2 linked regions of the Homo sapiens genome follow. The protein of the gene in region 2 purifies or fractionates together with the protein of the main gene of each other region. This does not show direct contact. Each region holds a gene or a part of one and is shown on either strand. Other genes may lie near its edges. The genes, in order: NDFIP1 and OPN4.

The links.
Region 1: the proteins of OPN4 (region 2) and NDFIP1 purify together in Homo sapiens (affinity purification with mass spectrometry; 3 studies listed by BioGRID and IntAct, with this or other methods). This does not show direct contact.

What each region holds. Positions count from the first base shown.
Region 1 is NC_000005.10:142,146,779-142,154,056, reverse strand, and holds part of NDFIP1 (NEDD4 family-interacting protein 1), read right to left. Parts: intron 2,327-7,278; 3' UTR 1-2,326. UniProt on the Homo sapiens protein: Activates HECT domain-containing E3 ubiquitin-protein ligases, including NEDD4 and ITCH, and consequently modulates the stability of their targets. As a result, controls many cellular processes.
Region 2 is NC_000010.11:86,650,606-86,657,705, forward strand, and holds the start of OPN4 (melanopsin), read left to right. Parts: upstream 1-3,941; 5' UTR 3,942-4,178; coding exon 4,179-4,322; intron 4,323-5,549; coding exon 5,550-5,695; intron 5,696-6,589; coding exon of another isoform or gene 6,590-6,622; intron 6,623-7,100. UniProt on the Homo sapiens protein: Photoreceptor that binds cis-retinaldehydes. Contributes to pupillar reflex, photoentrainment and other non-image forming responses to light. May be involved in the optokinetic visual tracking response.

The sequences.
Region 1 (7,278 bases), on a different chromosome or scaffold from region 2:
CTCTAGATGATATATGGTGCCCACTTCATGTGCCTCAAAAGATTTTAATTTTCAGAACATTTAAACGATTAAAGAGAAATCATCCTCTTAACTAGGTATTTTAAAGCGTATCAAACTGTAGGTTTACATTTGACAAAGTCTTATGGACCACCAAATACGTAGAAATAGGAATTCCAAATATTTCAGTTCGTTGAATATACAAAACCAAATAAGGCGCAAGGACCTGAAGAATAAACACAAAGCTAGTCTACAATGTTTGAGTTAACGTGATTTAGGACCCTTCTATTTTGTTCTGCAAGATAATTTACATAGTTCTCTCTGCTATATGTGTCCACATCTATTCAGATTGTTACAGATCTTTTCATTCTGGAACTTAGAACATTATAGGCCATACAAACTTCCAAACTCCATTGTTGCTATAATCTGATTCGAAATGGAAAAAAAAAAATCTTCAAAGAAACTTCCATAAAACTCCCTTCTCTATTATCAAATATAACTTCTGAAAAAGAACACACTACACTATTATTCATAATAATCCATAAACTGGTTAGAGGGATCATTGAAATGTCAATCCAGGAGGCTCCTAATTTTCCTGTTTGGCTTTCAAACAACCCACACTTCTGTGCATTATATACTGATATCCTGAACGACTTCCTATGCTGATTCTGGATATACATACACAGCAGATGAATGGACATTTGCAGCTATCAGACTGTGCTGGTGCTGATTTGTGTAGTAATTTGACCATCTTGGTGTATTTTTTCTTCATATTTCTTAAATAGAAAATGAAAAAAATCAAATGGCTGATATCATAAAAACAACTGGTCTCTAAATTTAAGATTGAGACAAGAATAGAAATCAGGAGAAATGAGGAATCTTTAATTTCAACTGACTGAATGCTCACAGGACTCAAACCAGTTGGTGCATTCAACTGAGAAAAAGAACAAATGAGAACATGCAGAAAACACTGGAAATAAATTATCTAAAATTATGTCTAAAAATTGAAGCATAATTAGGAATTCCAGAATGATTTAAGATCTCTACAACTCCTCTCTACTTTTTTAGTCCATTATCTTTTACAGAACCAATGTTCAAATACATTTTTAGGAATGTATTTAGTAGGATATAAGAGGACTTCTTGTGCTGAAAATGAAGAAAAAAATTGACCCAACATTAGTTTTTTAATCGCATCTACTGAATGATTCCCTAAGATTAGAAAAAATTGCCTTAGCAATCAACAAATGCAAGCCAAGAAATTAAGCACTAATCTACAGTAAAAGGTGCTACACAAGAGATATTTATTAATGTTCTGTTGTATTTACAGTTTTAACATAGCAAACCAAGATGAATTACCACTTGGGCAGAAAGCACATCATTCTACATTATAACCCACTGGTTTCTGCTAACACATTGTAAAAGCAAGTAGTACAGTATGTTAGGGATCATCTCAAAAGTTCCAAGCTACTTCTTTCTTTGCTCCTAAGTACCTAATCCTCTCCTTACTCCCAGACTTTGGCCTAATCACCAGGAGACAAAAGGAAAATAAGGGGGGTGGGGGTGGGGGTGGGGGTGAAGAACGCTAATTATAGAAAGAGTGTCAAGAATTACATTTTAGTAATTAAGCTTCATTTGTATCCTAGTGCTTTCTGTTTTATACAGTGACAACACCTTTAGAATCCCTTAGGTACAATAAGGTACCGCAGAATTGTGAATACAGGCTATAAAAAATTAATGCTTATTATTTACCAATTAAAGACTTATTTTTGACCACACCTTAAATGTATTTTTGCACTATGATTTTGCTTCCAGGTGTTCATACAGAATTGAATAAATTTCTAGATTAACTTGAACAGCAAATATGGATTATGTGCAAAAACACAGTCATAGCAAAAGTTTAACTTTTGAGAAAACCCCTTTAAAATGGCCAGCATTATACATATCTTACAATATTTAATTCCAAGTTCATTTTGAGATGGAGGATGAATAAAGCAAGACTGCCCCCTACCGACTACAGGGACATGGCTCATGCTACTTAAAATGACTACAAACAATATATAAGGCATTATTAATACATCACAGACTTGATTGCAAGAGCTTTTTCAAACATTAACCACTAATGATTCAATGATTACAGAATTCTGCATTAACTATTAAAATTTTACACCTAGGAACAAATAGAGAGAAATGATCTTTTCAACAGTACTTTATTTTTTTAAAGCAGGTGATTATTCCTCTGTGTTCTGCATCTTGATTCACTTCCTGCAGGTGTTCTCTTGCTTCTTGAGAGAGAATTCATAAATGCAGGAAGGCCTTTGCCAGAAAACATCTGCCAGAGAAGGATATTGAATATTGAAACTCTAGTTAGCTTGTTATTTTGGCTAAGAGAAGGATGTAGTCACAAAAGAAGGCAGGATGTTTGGAGACACAAGTGCATTTTAACATAGTTTTAAGATTACTGTATACTGACATCACGGTATTCAATAAACATTAAAATTTCAGTTCTTAAAGTTATCAAGGCCTCTAGAACTAGAAAAAACTGGAATGCTTTTTCTAAAAACTCCTGAAGTCAGGAGTCTCTCTTTCCAAACCTCTTAACAAAAGAATACAATGGAAGCAGTGCTACTGCGCATCCCACACTGAACGCTGTCAGCAATGACTGAAACTTGGGACAGAGAGCATAATCCAAGTGCACAAGTAATTTTCCTAATATACCTGAAGATACTGTTTACCCTAACAATTCCACTAGATATTGCACAAGGAAGCTTTCCAGTAAGGATGCCAACCATGTCATGCTATACCTCAACCGAGCATGGCAAAATTAGAAAACAAGGATAAACTCACAGGTACCACAAATACTTTTAAAAAACAAGTTTTCCTAAAAAGTCATTGTATTTGGGGCATGTTTCTCTTAAAATAATACATGTACTTTCAAACTAAATTTTAAGAAAGGAATATATCTGACTGAAATAAATGCTCTCGAAATAATGCCTACGCATTTTACTAAATGCAGTTTTCATCTAATACTTTGAGGCATTTCTGTACTAGTATATTGTTTTGGTTCTCATGAAAATAACTTGGGAAAAACTACAAGTAATTCCCTATATTAACAATAAAAGAAGAACTATTAAGAATAAAAGAAGAAACACTAAAGAGATACATTTACTGCTTAATAAACATTTATTGAGAAACTATTTTGTGGTACTCAGCAAGAAGTGAGAGTTGGATGGGCTCAAATATCGGCCTATAACTTACTTTTCTATCCTCCAAATTACTATAAAAGCCACAAGAAACTCTTCTATGTCTTTTCTTTCTTTTCTTTTCTTTTTTTTTTTTTTGGAGACAAGAGTCTGTCACTCAGGCTGGAGTGCAGTGGCGCGAGCTCGGCTCACTGCAACCTACACCTCCAGGGCTCAAGCCAACCTTCTGCCTCAGCCCCGCAAGTGACTGGCACTAACAGGCGTGCACCACTATGCCCGGTGTCTTCTGTATCTTTTCTGATTAGATTACTGCGTAAGTATTTAAAAGGCTGCCAAAATGGAGAGAGACTACAAACACACTGGAGGAAATGAACATATTTTAATATTATCAACATTTTTCCAAACTATAAATTCATTTGTGTTGTGATTTGAAGTAAACCACTGAAACTGATACAAGGACATCTTTTCTTTAGATTGAGAGACATAAGAGATTGAAAGACCTCGGAAAGCACAGAGACAGAGACACAAAAATATGAGGAACTCTAAAAGCCAAGCAGAAGCAAAAAAGAAAATTGGCAGATGAATATTAAATGAATGTTTTTGCAATGAGGCCAGACTCATTATAAACATAAATAATTTGTTTTATCAGTTTCTATATATTTTTTTTTTTTTTTTTTTTGAGACGGAGTCCCGCTCTATCACCCAGGCTGGAGTGCAGTGGCACAATTTCGGCTCACTGCAAGCTCCGCCCCCCGGGTTCATGCTGTTCTCCTGCCTCAGCCTCCCGAGTAGCTGGGACTACAGGCGCCCGCCACCACACCCAGCTGATTTTTTGTATTTTTAGTAGAGACGGGGTTTCACTGTGTTAGCCAGGATGGTCTTGATCTCCTGACCTCGTGATCTGCCCGCCTTGGCTTCCCAAAGTGCTGGGATTACAGGCGTGAGCCACCATGCCTGGCCCAGTTTCTTTTAATAGATGAAAACTGATGAAACAGTGACTAGTAGGTCAAAACAGAGTTTGCAAGAATATACAATATGGTACGGACAATTACCTGGCCACTTCCTTAGTTTATGATGCTTTAGCATAGGTAAACAGCTTTAATAGATCCCTCAAAGTCAAAGCCTGACACCCAACAAACATTAAAAATCCCTTTGCTTGTTCAGTAAGAGAAGTAAAAATTAAATTAAAATAAAATATCTCAAGAGGACCTAGAGAGGTCACCAGTGGGTAATCTCAATCACCACACAATCTCCAAATGAAAGACTGCTAGAGGGCACTGCTGTCTGAGACTTGGAGGCTTGAGTGGCAGTGTTACAGAAATGCTGGCAGTACACAAACTGAAGAACAAACAGATCTTAGGGACTCTGGACCGTATTACTAAATTATAGATCAGATCACTTTGTAAAAAAAAAAAAAAAAAAAAAGGAATCCAATAGCCTACAGATCATTTAATTCCAAGAGGAAGACAACCAGTTCTTCTTGGAGACATGTAAATTTTGTTTAGCAAAAATTCTACTGGAAACACCATTTCCCTATTATCTTGCTATCTTATAACATAGTCCAATAAGTAAACCTTTACCTTGAGATGAATTTCCTTTAATAAAATAAAAGAAGTATTAAGGAACAGGAGAAAAATTACAGAAAAGGAGAAATGAAAGTGTCTGTTATCACATGGAAAAAAATTAAAATATTTGATGCCTAATAGGTACAGCTCACTAGGTCACTTTTTTAATTATGAAGGCCCTAGCTCATTAATGCTAGGGCTCAAAAACCTCCTTTTTTCCTTCTATTTCAGATGCAGTTAAAATAAATAATTTTAAAATATATTATGCTTCATATGTACAAGTGCTTTTGGTACCACACAAATAGTGTTAGATATAACCAATCAACTGTGTTACCACCTTATTACTGTAGCTAACTCCTCATTCACCTGGCAGCATCAGAGGAGGTGGTAATCCATAAAAATGTATTTTCCAGTGAACTGGTAAATAAGAAAAGTATAAACACTTTACATTTTTTACCATTTCAGGTACAGATGTTTATAACAGGTATCTGTTTCTTCTGCTTCCTCAGTCACATACTTTTTTTTTTTTTTTTTTTTTTTTTTTGAGACAGAGTCTCGCTCTGTCGCCCAGGCTGGAGTGCAGTGGTGTGATCTTGGCTCACTGCAACCTCCACCTCCTGGGTTCAAGCGATTCTTCTGCCTCAGCCTCCCAAGTAGCTGGGATTACAGGTGCACACCACCACACCCAGATAATTTTTGTATCTTTAGTAGAGACGGGGTTTTGTCATGTTGCCCAGGCTGGTCTCAAACTTCTAACCTCAGGTGACCTGCCCACCTCGGCCTCCCAAAGTGCTGGGATTACAGGCGTGAGCCACTGCGCCCGGCCCAGTCACATACTTCTTGATGGCCACTGTGCACACCTTTAGCAGTTCCTTCTGGCATTTTGTTATGAAGTAGGAAAACAGATAACAGCTTATTAATACATTTTTCCCTCCCTTAAGCTTAAATGGACTCTGAAAAGGAACCTGAGAGCTGCCCCTATGATAGTAGTACATGAGCTTTAATGTTTAGCTTTTGTAATATCTACTTTGACTGATTAGAAGGAGGTGTTTTGGGATCACTTCAAGATTGGTTTATTTGTACTATATTTCAGGTAGCCTGACTAGAAAAGTCACTATTCTTATGCCCTTTTCTAGTAAAATGCCAAATCTTAGTACAATATGGAAAGTATATTATTTTTCTGTTTTGGTAAAGTTATTTTAAAAATTCTGTATCTGTATCTTTCTGGCAAAGTTATTTTAAAAATTCCCTACCTGTGTCTTTCTTCAGCTACCTTTTAATTGGTGACATCTCCATCAAAGAAGTAGAAGTCCATAAAAGAAAATAAAGCTTTTGGGAACACTGACCCCATTTTCTAAAGTTTGTGTTCTCTGATTGGCCATTCCCAGCTTTCTACTTGCATAAACTCTGTATTCTGATCCTTTTGATGGCTTCAGGTTGACAATGTCAAGAGAGGCAATTTAGCAGAGTAGTCACTAGTTTACCAGTGATTTTCCTCAGCAGGAGTTAGCCTAGGATTTTTAAACTACATTTTCCCTCTCCCCTATCCCTATCTCCCTAGAAGAATCACTGTACATGACAGTTAGAAATAAGATCAAATTTATCCTTTAGTAATTTGACTGCCTGCTAGGCAAAAACTCAACAACCTTCTGACAAAATTCAGAGCTCATAATCTCTACAACATGATAATTAACAATGCTGCAACAAAGAAATAACTGGCCAGGTGTGTAAAAACAGGAAAATGTAACCCAGAGTCAAGAGAAAAATCCATCAATACAAATAGACTTATCTAACCTGATGTTGGAATTAGCAGATAATTACTTTTTAAAAACTGTGATAAGCATAATAAAGAATCGATAGGGAGGAAAAAAATAAAGCTTTCTTACTTCACATGACGGTTTTCTAGTATGTCTTCTAACAAAATTAAACTAAATGTCCTCTGAACTAGAGAAAGAAGGGATTCTACATCTGGATCTGGACAGAGTTCTTACCCTTTCAGTGGACAAAGGGAACTCAGTCCCATAGGATATTATGGCTTTTCAGGTTCCCTCTGGGGATCCCTGGAAAATTAGTGAAGTCATTAGAATTCTAAATTCTGCTGTAAGTTCCTCAAACCCTTAATTTAGAGCTCTGAATTCTCTGGGTGTGTCAGGAATGATTTCAAATAAACCAGGGTATCACAGTTAAATAGAAAAGCAAATAAACTCTATTATGCCCTCCAATGGTGTGCATTCATTTACCTCTGAGAAAGTTTCTGACAACTCTTAACGTACACTCCTGAAGCACCAGCAGGCTCAACACTTGAATCTCCCTTAGTACTTCCTACAACATTATTATTACTAAGGACTGCCTACTTCAAATCACAACCCCACATACATAGTTTTAAATTTAGAATATCAAAAAACATTTCAGAAATTTTAGAAAATCCAAACAATAACAACAAAATTTTCAGTAAAGCACCAAACAACACAGGAAAACTGAGACGTTCAGGCTTTCTGTCAACTGGGCTGCTATTT
Region 2 (7,100 bases):
CCTGAGTCACAGGTCTGGGAAGTCTGAGTTTCTAACAAGCTGCAGGAGGGGTGCACATCAGCAGCCAGTCCTCCAGCCACACTTTGAGAAGCAAGGACCAGGGAGATTTTGGATTTCCTGATACAATGTGTCAGGTGCTCTACTAGGCAGTGGGTCTCAAAGGTGAACAAATCCGACCTGTTTGCATTCCAAGGAGGGAGACAGACATGGTCAGATGACAATCACTGCAAATGACACTATCACTATCCATAGATGCTCCGAGGGATGGACAGGAGGAGGTGAACAGCTGGGCCCTTGGCAGTCTGGGGGAGGTGGTATTTGAGTTGAGACCCAGAGCAGGGGACAGGCGAAGGTTTCAGGAGCAGTGTGTGAGCAGAGGCTGGGTGACCAGAGGAGCTGTGTGCCTTCGGTGGTCTGAAAGGAGGCCAGCCTGGTCTCCAGGCACGGAGTTAGGCAGATTCAGTGGCTCCTCCTCTCTCAGCAAGAGAAGACTCACCTGAACTCAGCTCCCCAAGGTATCAGGCCTCCTCCTCCCGCAAGGCCTAATCCAGCTAATCCAGCCTAATCCAGCAAGGTCTCCAGGTGCTGGCAGCTGGAGCTCTCAGACACCTCCCCAATCAGCTGGCAGTCACACCCAGACTGCCTGGCGCCTGAGCTCGGCTGCTTGTCCCACAAACAAGGCTACTCTGAAGCATGCATGGAAAAGGGGTAGGAGCAAGGGCAGGTCCCTGGGGACACTGAGTCCCATGCAGTGACAGCAGCCTTGCCCATGCACGCATAGAGGAAATGGCGTGCCTCTTCTTGCTGAGCCTCGGTGTACGTGCTTCCCCCTAAAGCCCACTTCTTATCCCCACATACCAGGTGATGTAGTACCTCCCTCCACCCGCCTCGCCACGTTTGGGCTCTGTCTCTGTCTTAAGAGCTGTGGAAGCCACCAAAGGGTTAAGTGTGGGATTATGTGGAATTTGTGTTTCCACCTGCCTTTAGGGCTGCAGCAGGAAGCAATGGCTGGAAGGGAGGAACCAGAGCAAAGTGGGGCCACGGAAGGGGAGATGTGGCTGGCTACCTTAGCCCCACTATCAGTGCAGAGGTCCCTGGGACCATCGGCAAACCCGGCACCAAGCACTGAGGTCAGCCTGCCCCCGGGAATGGCACCGGGGGAGGAGGAGATGCCCAGGACAGTCTCCAAGGGAGTGGGCACCAGCCAGAGTTGGGACTGGGAGGACTCTGAGGACCCCTTCCACACTTTTCCCTGCGTTGAGATTCTTGGATGGCACAGGCCCATGAGACCATCAACAATCCCAGGTCTCAAGAGGCCGGGCCCCACCCTGAGCCAAGCTTGCAGAGGAGGAGGAGAAGTGCTGAGGGAAGGTGAGCACAGCCAGGCACCCAGGAAGACAGGAGCCACCTGGTCGGAGGGGAGTGATGGAAGGTCAGGGTTCCCACCCATCAGACCACAGCTTCCAGCCAGGACAGCTTGGGCAGCAGTAGTCATAGGAGACATCTGGAGGCTGAGGCTTCCCACGCGGCCCTCCTGGCTCCATTGGATGGCAGGCTCCGGGCAGACGAGCTGCCAGGTGGGTGTGGGATGCAAAGGTTTGGAGCAAGAGCGCCATGGGGAGCCTCCCCAGTGGGACAGAAGCACAGGAGTGAGGGGGTTGGGCCCTGAGGAGATCTCAGTGTCACCCGCAACGGCTGCAGTGCACGGCCCATGGAGAAAGGACATTGTCAGGTGAGACGTGGGCTTCCAAAGGCCCCAGGCTGGGGGTTCCGAGTCCTCTGATCTTTCCCTGAGGTGCTCCTTTGAGGCCTGTGGCACCCTGGGTATGTGGATTCCCGCCTCATGTGTCCACCTGACAAGCACTTCTCCCCTGGACTCCTGTGCCTGCTCCATCACCTGCACCCTCTCTTAATTAGCAGGTTGGAGAGTGGGGTCCACATTGAATGGGACGTTGTGTTGACTCAGAATTGCTCCCAGCTGTGAGGAATTGTTAAACCCCTACATTAAAACGCAAGCAGCTGGCATTGAGCCTAGGGACAGAAAGAAAAGCCGGCCCCTCAGCCTCACCCTGCCCCCAGGGTGGCCTCTGTGAGCCAAAGCCCTGAAGTGGAAGAGCCTCAGGAGGAAGGCAGTCTGAGCCATGGGCTGGCAGCTGCAGGAAGTACAGCTCCCGCTCCCAGTGAGGCTGCTCCCACTTCTCCTGCTCAAACCTGGGGCTCCAGGAGAACTGTTTGTAAAGACTGGGGGAACTTCTGGAAGAGGAGTGATATCTCTGTCCACTCCAGGGCTCCAACACTCCCAGCACTGTGCCAGGACATGGCCCCCACTTAGGATGACCGCTGCCCGGTCGGGCTCCCCTAAACGCAGCCTCTGTGGCAGGCCTAGCCCGAGCAGCCCTCCCTGGAAGCCGTGTGTTCAGCTTCCCTTCTCTCCAGCTCCTGCTGCCTCCTCTAAGACAGGGCAAGGGGCAGGCCCGGGGTCCCCTCCACTTCTGACATCCAGTCAACTTGGATCAGGCCTGCAGGCCTGGGTGAGTTCCTGGGACTCTCCCAATAAGGTTTTAAAAAATCTTTATACTTTAAAAATTTCTGCCGGGCCCAGTGGCTCACGCCTGTAATCCTGGCACTTTGGGAAGCCGAGGTGGGTGGATCACCTGAGGTCAGGAGTTCGAGACTAGCCTGGCCAACATGGTGAACTCCTGCCTCTGCTAAATATACAAAAATTAGCCAGGTGTGGTGGCGAGTGCCTGTAATCCCAGCTACTCGGGAGGCTGAGGCAGGAGAATTGCTTGGACCTGGGAGGCGGAAGTTGCAGTGAGCTGAGATTGCACCATTGCACTCCAGGCTGGGTGACAGAGCAAGACTGTCTCAAAAAAAATAAAAATAAAAAAATAAAACTTTCTTATCAAAAAACAAGCAAAAGCCGCCTCGTGATCTGATCTCACCCTACTGCTACATCCTCCTTGTGTCTCCATCTGTGAAAGGGTGACCAGCCTTGGTTCTATGCAGGGTGACTGTGAAAATGCCATGGCTCATGGGGGCCAAACATGGTGGTAGGGCCCACTGTGACAAGGGTGAGGCTGGGCTGCACAGGCTCAGCTGCCCACAAACAGCTCTGGGGGCTCTTGGGATGGCTGAGGCTGCTCTTGATGAGCTCAGGGAAGAAACACAACAGAGACTGGTCAAAGGAGAGGACACAGCCTTCTGCCCAATGTCCAAGAGCCCGAGCCCAGGAATCTCCCTTGAAACACACACTCTCACACACACTCTCACACACACACATGCTCTCACTCACTCACACTCACACACACTCACATGCACACACACTCACACATTGACACCACTGTCAGCTCAGAAATCTCCCTTGAAACACACACACTCACACACATACACATTCACACCACCATCATCCCAGAAATCTCCCTTGAAACACATACACACTCACACACACACACACTCACACACATTCCCAACACCATCCCAGAAATCTTCCTTGAAACACACACACTCACGAACCCTCACACACACACACACACACACGCACACATTCATGACACCATCCCAGAAATCTCCCTTGAAACACATACACACTCACATACACATTTACGCCATCATCCCAGAAGTCTCCTTTGAAACACACACTTTCACACACTCACACACACACACTCACACACACTCACATTCACACCACCATCATCCAGAAATCTCCCTTGAAACACACACACTCACACACACATTCATGCCACCATCATTCCAGAAGTCTCCCTTGAAACACACACACACACACACACACACTCACACATACACATTCACGCCACCATCATCAGACCTTCGTAGATAGACACCCAGAGACCTTGGTCTGAGTGAGCTGGCGGCATGGAGCGACTGAGCATGTGCAGCTCCCACATCGCTATATAAAGATGGGGATGAACTCTGTGGCTGTGAGTCACCATAACTGCGACACTCACTCATTTGCGCTTCACCAGACACAGAGCAACCGCCAGCCCCAAGAGCAGCTCCAGGCTGGATCTGCGCCGGACACAGGAGAAAGCAGCGGGTAGGCTAAGCAGGGGTGCTGAGGATGGAGGAAAGTTGGGAGGCTGAGCACAGCTGAAGTCCTGAGCTCCCTGTGCCCTTGACTTCTCTGTGGGCTCGAGCAAGGACCATCCCAACTCAGGATGAACCCTCCTTCGGGGCCAAGAGTCCCGCCCAGCCCAACCCAAGAGCCCAGCTGCATGGCCACCCCAGCACCACCCAGCTGGTGGGACAGCTCCCAGAGCAGCATCTCCAGCCTGGGCCGGCTTCCATCCATCAGTCCCACAGTAAGCCTGGGCGAGCATGTGCATGCACAGAGCCTTCCCTGACCCCTTCCTGGTCCCCTCCTGGCCACACACAGGGGCTTTGACAGGGAGATAGAAAAGGTCTGAACTCTGCTGTGGGGCCTTGAGCCATTACTGGACCTCTCTGAGCCCGCCCCTGATAAACAGGCTGATAGAGGAGGGTGCAGGCAATGTCCTTCCTCATGGAGAGCATTCAAGGAACAGAAATGCCAGCCCTGAGGACAAGGGGCTGGAATGGCCAGACCTGTCCTTGGCTGCACTCATTCCTTTCAGAGGTTGCTCGGATGCCCCATGGAGCCCTCCAGGGAGGAGGGCACACCCTGGGCCTCTGGATCTGCCAAGCCCACAGTGAAGCCTTGGGTGCCTTCTGCCACCTCCATCATCCTAGCCCAGGCCCAGGGCCATATTCCATCAACACCACTGCTACCTGGGGAAGGCCGAGGGCACCCTCAGGACCTGGGGATGCTGGCCCAGGTGCTGGACAGGATGGGAAGGCTCCGGTAGCTATAGGGGCCACTGCGGCAGGACAGAGACCAAGCCACCCTCTCTTCCCCAGAAAGGGGTTAGGGTGGGAGGAGTCTTTAAATCCCTTTGTCCTGACCTGATATGGTCATGACCTCCCTTCAGTGACCCTGGGAGGCCTAAGCTTTCTTTCTAAAGGGAATTCCCTTCATTTTCATGCCAGGCATCAAGGTTAGCTGTACCCAGCTATGCTATTGGGCAATGCAGCTTCTCCTCTAAGGCTCAGTAGGGGACGGGACTCTTGAGAGGGGCTCCACCCGACTCACCACCCCAGCGTCTAGAGGCCTCAAAAACTGTCTTGGGCCCTTGGGCTGGAGTCCATACTGCAGGCAGGGATGCACCCAGGAGTTGGCTCTGTCTTCTCCCTAAGGAAAGATAGGGTGACCAGGGCCATGTCCCTGCTTGCCAGTCACATGTCTGTCTGTCCTACCAGCCTCCAGCAGGTGATCTGAGCCCACTCCTAGAAGGCCCCTGTGCCATGTTCTAGGAGCTTGGGCTGGACTTTAGAAAGGACCTGCACTTCCCTTCTGCTTTTGGCCACTTGTGAGCTGTGTGTGCAACTGGCTTTGCCACTCTGAGCCTCAGTTTTCCCACCTGCCCTGTTGAGAATCCTAACTCTTCCTTCTCAGGACTATTTGAAGGTGACAAGCGATAACATGATTCCCTCGTTTCTCTGTCTCTCCGCAGGCACCTGGGACTTGGGCTGCTGCCTGGGTCCCCCTCCCCACGGTTGATGTTCCAGACCATGCCCACTATACCCTGGGCACAGTGATCTTGCTGGTGGGACTCACGGGGATGCTGGGCAACCTGACGGTCATCTATACCTTCTGCAGGTGCCTGGTTGGTGGTGCTGGGCCCAGGGCACTGAGGGTGGCAGCCATGCAGACAGGGAAGAAAATGCAGGCAGGAATGTTGACTCTAGCTCTGGCCAGGGCACTGTTGAGGCTAGGCAAGGAGGGCAGGGCCATGCCTTCGATGATCTCAGGCCCAGACCTTCCTGAAGGTCACGGAAAGGGCCAAAAATGGTCCAGGGAGACTTGACTGACTGGCACTAATTGAGACCCAGGTGCATCCTCTGTGGAGGGTGTGTGTGCCCAGAGTATGTGGGTCTCTGACCATTCTGCCCTGCTCTCAGCGCACCTCTCCGTCACCTGCCCCAGAGAGCATCCTCCCCCTGCGTTGAAGAGCAGCTCTAGGCCAGGCGTGGTGGCTCCCGCCTGTAATCCCAGCACTTTGGGAGGCCAAGGCGAGCAGATCACCTGAGATCAGGGTTCGAGACCAGCCTGGCCAATGTGGTGAAACCCCCGTCTCTACTAAAAATACAAAAATTAGCCAGGTGTGGTGGTGTGTGCCTATAATCCAAGCTGCTTGGGAGGCTGAGGCAGGAAAATCGCCTAAACCTGGGAGGCGGAGTTTGCAGTGAACCGAGATCATGCCACTGCACTCTAGCCTGGGCAACAGAACAAGACTCCATCTCAAAAAAAAAAAAAAAAAAAAAAGAGCAGCCCTGGGGACCAGCATCCTCAAGTCCCTCAAACACCCCTGACACCCACCCCCAGTGTCCCTCTCCATCTGCCCCCCTGCCTGGCTCAGTGGCTGAGACAGGCAGGTGGAGAAGGGAACCCAGGCTGCAGGGCCACACAGCCCCCTGGCTCTCCCACCTGCCAGCTGAAGGACTGGGCACGTCATTTCTCCTCCTTGAGCTCACTTTTCTTTCCGCAAAACAGAGCTGTGCTTCGTGGAGTCACTGTGATGATGCAGTAAGTTCACGGATGTGCGTTGCCCCACAGATGAGCCACTTACTGAGTGCTGTGCACCGGAGCAAGTCACTTCATGAGTGGGAGCATCTTGTCTGGAAAATGGGGACAATGACGCCTCCCTCAGGGTAGATGCAAAGATGGATGATGACAGGAGCCGAGGCTGGTGAAAGTGCCTGGCCCGGCCGTGGTGCACAGCCATCAGCTCCTCTGCCCTTGGCCATCCCCAAGCATGAGGATTACAGAGACAGTGTGCAGGGCAGGGTCCAGGCAGGACGTGACACTGGAGGGAGAGTGGGAGGGGGACCCGCGGAGGAGGGAAGCGTGAGAAGCCATGGGAAAGCACAGTCAGGGCACGCAGGAGGAGGAACCTAGGGAGAAACCTCTAGGGAGACCTTGGCCTAGAGGGACTCAAGGAAACCAGTGAATTGGTCAAGGAAATGGTGTGAGTCGTGCAGAGGAATTTAGAGGGCAAGAAGAG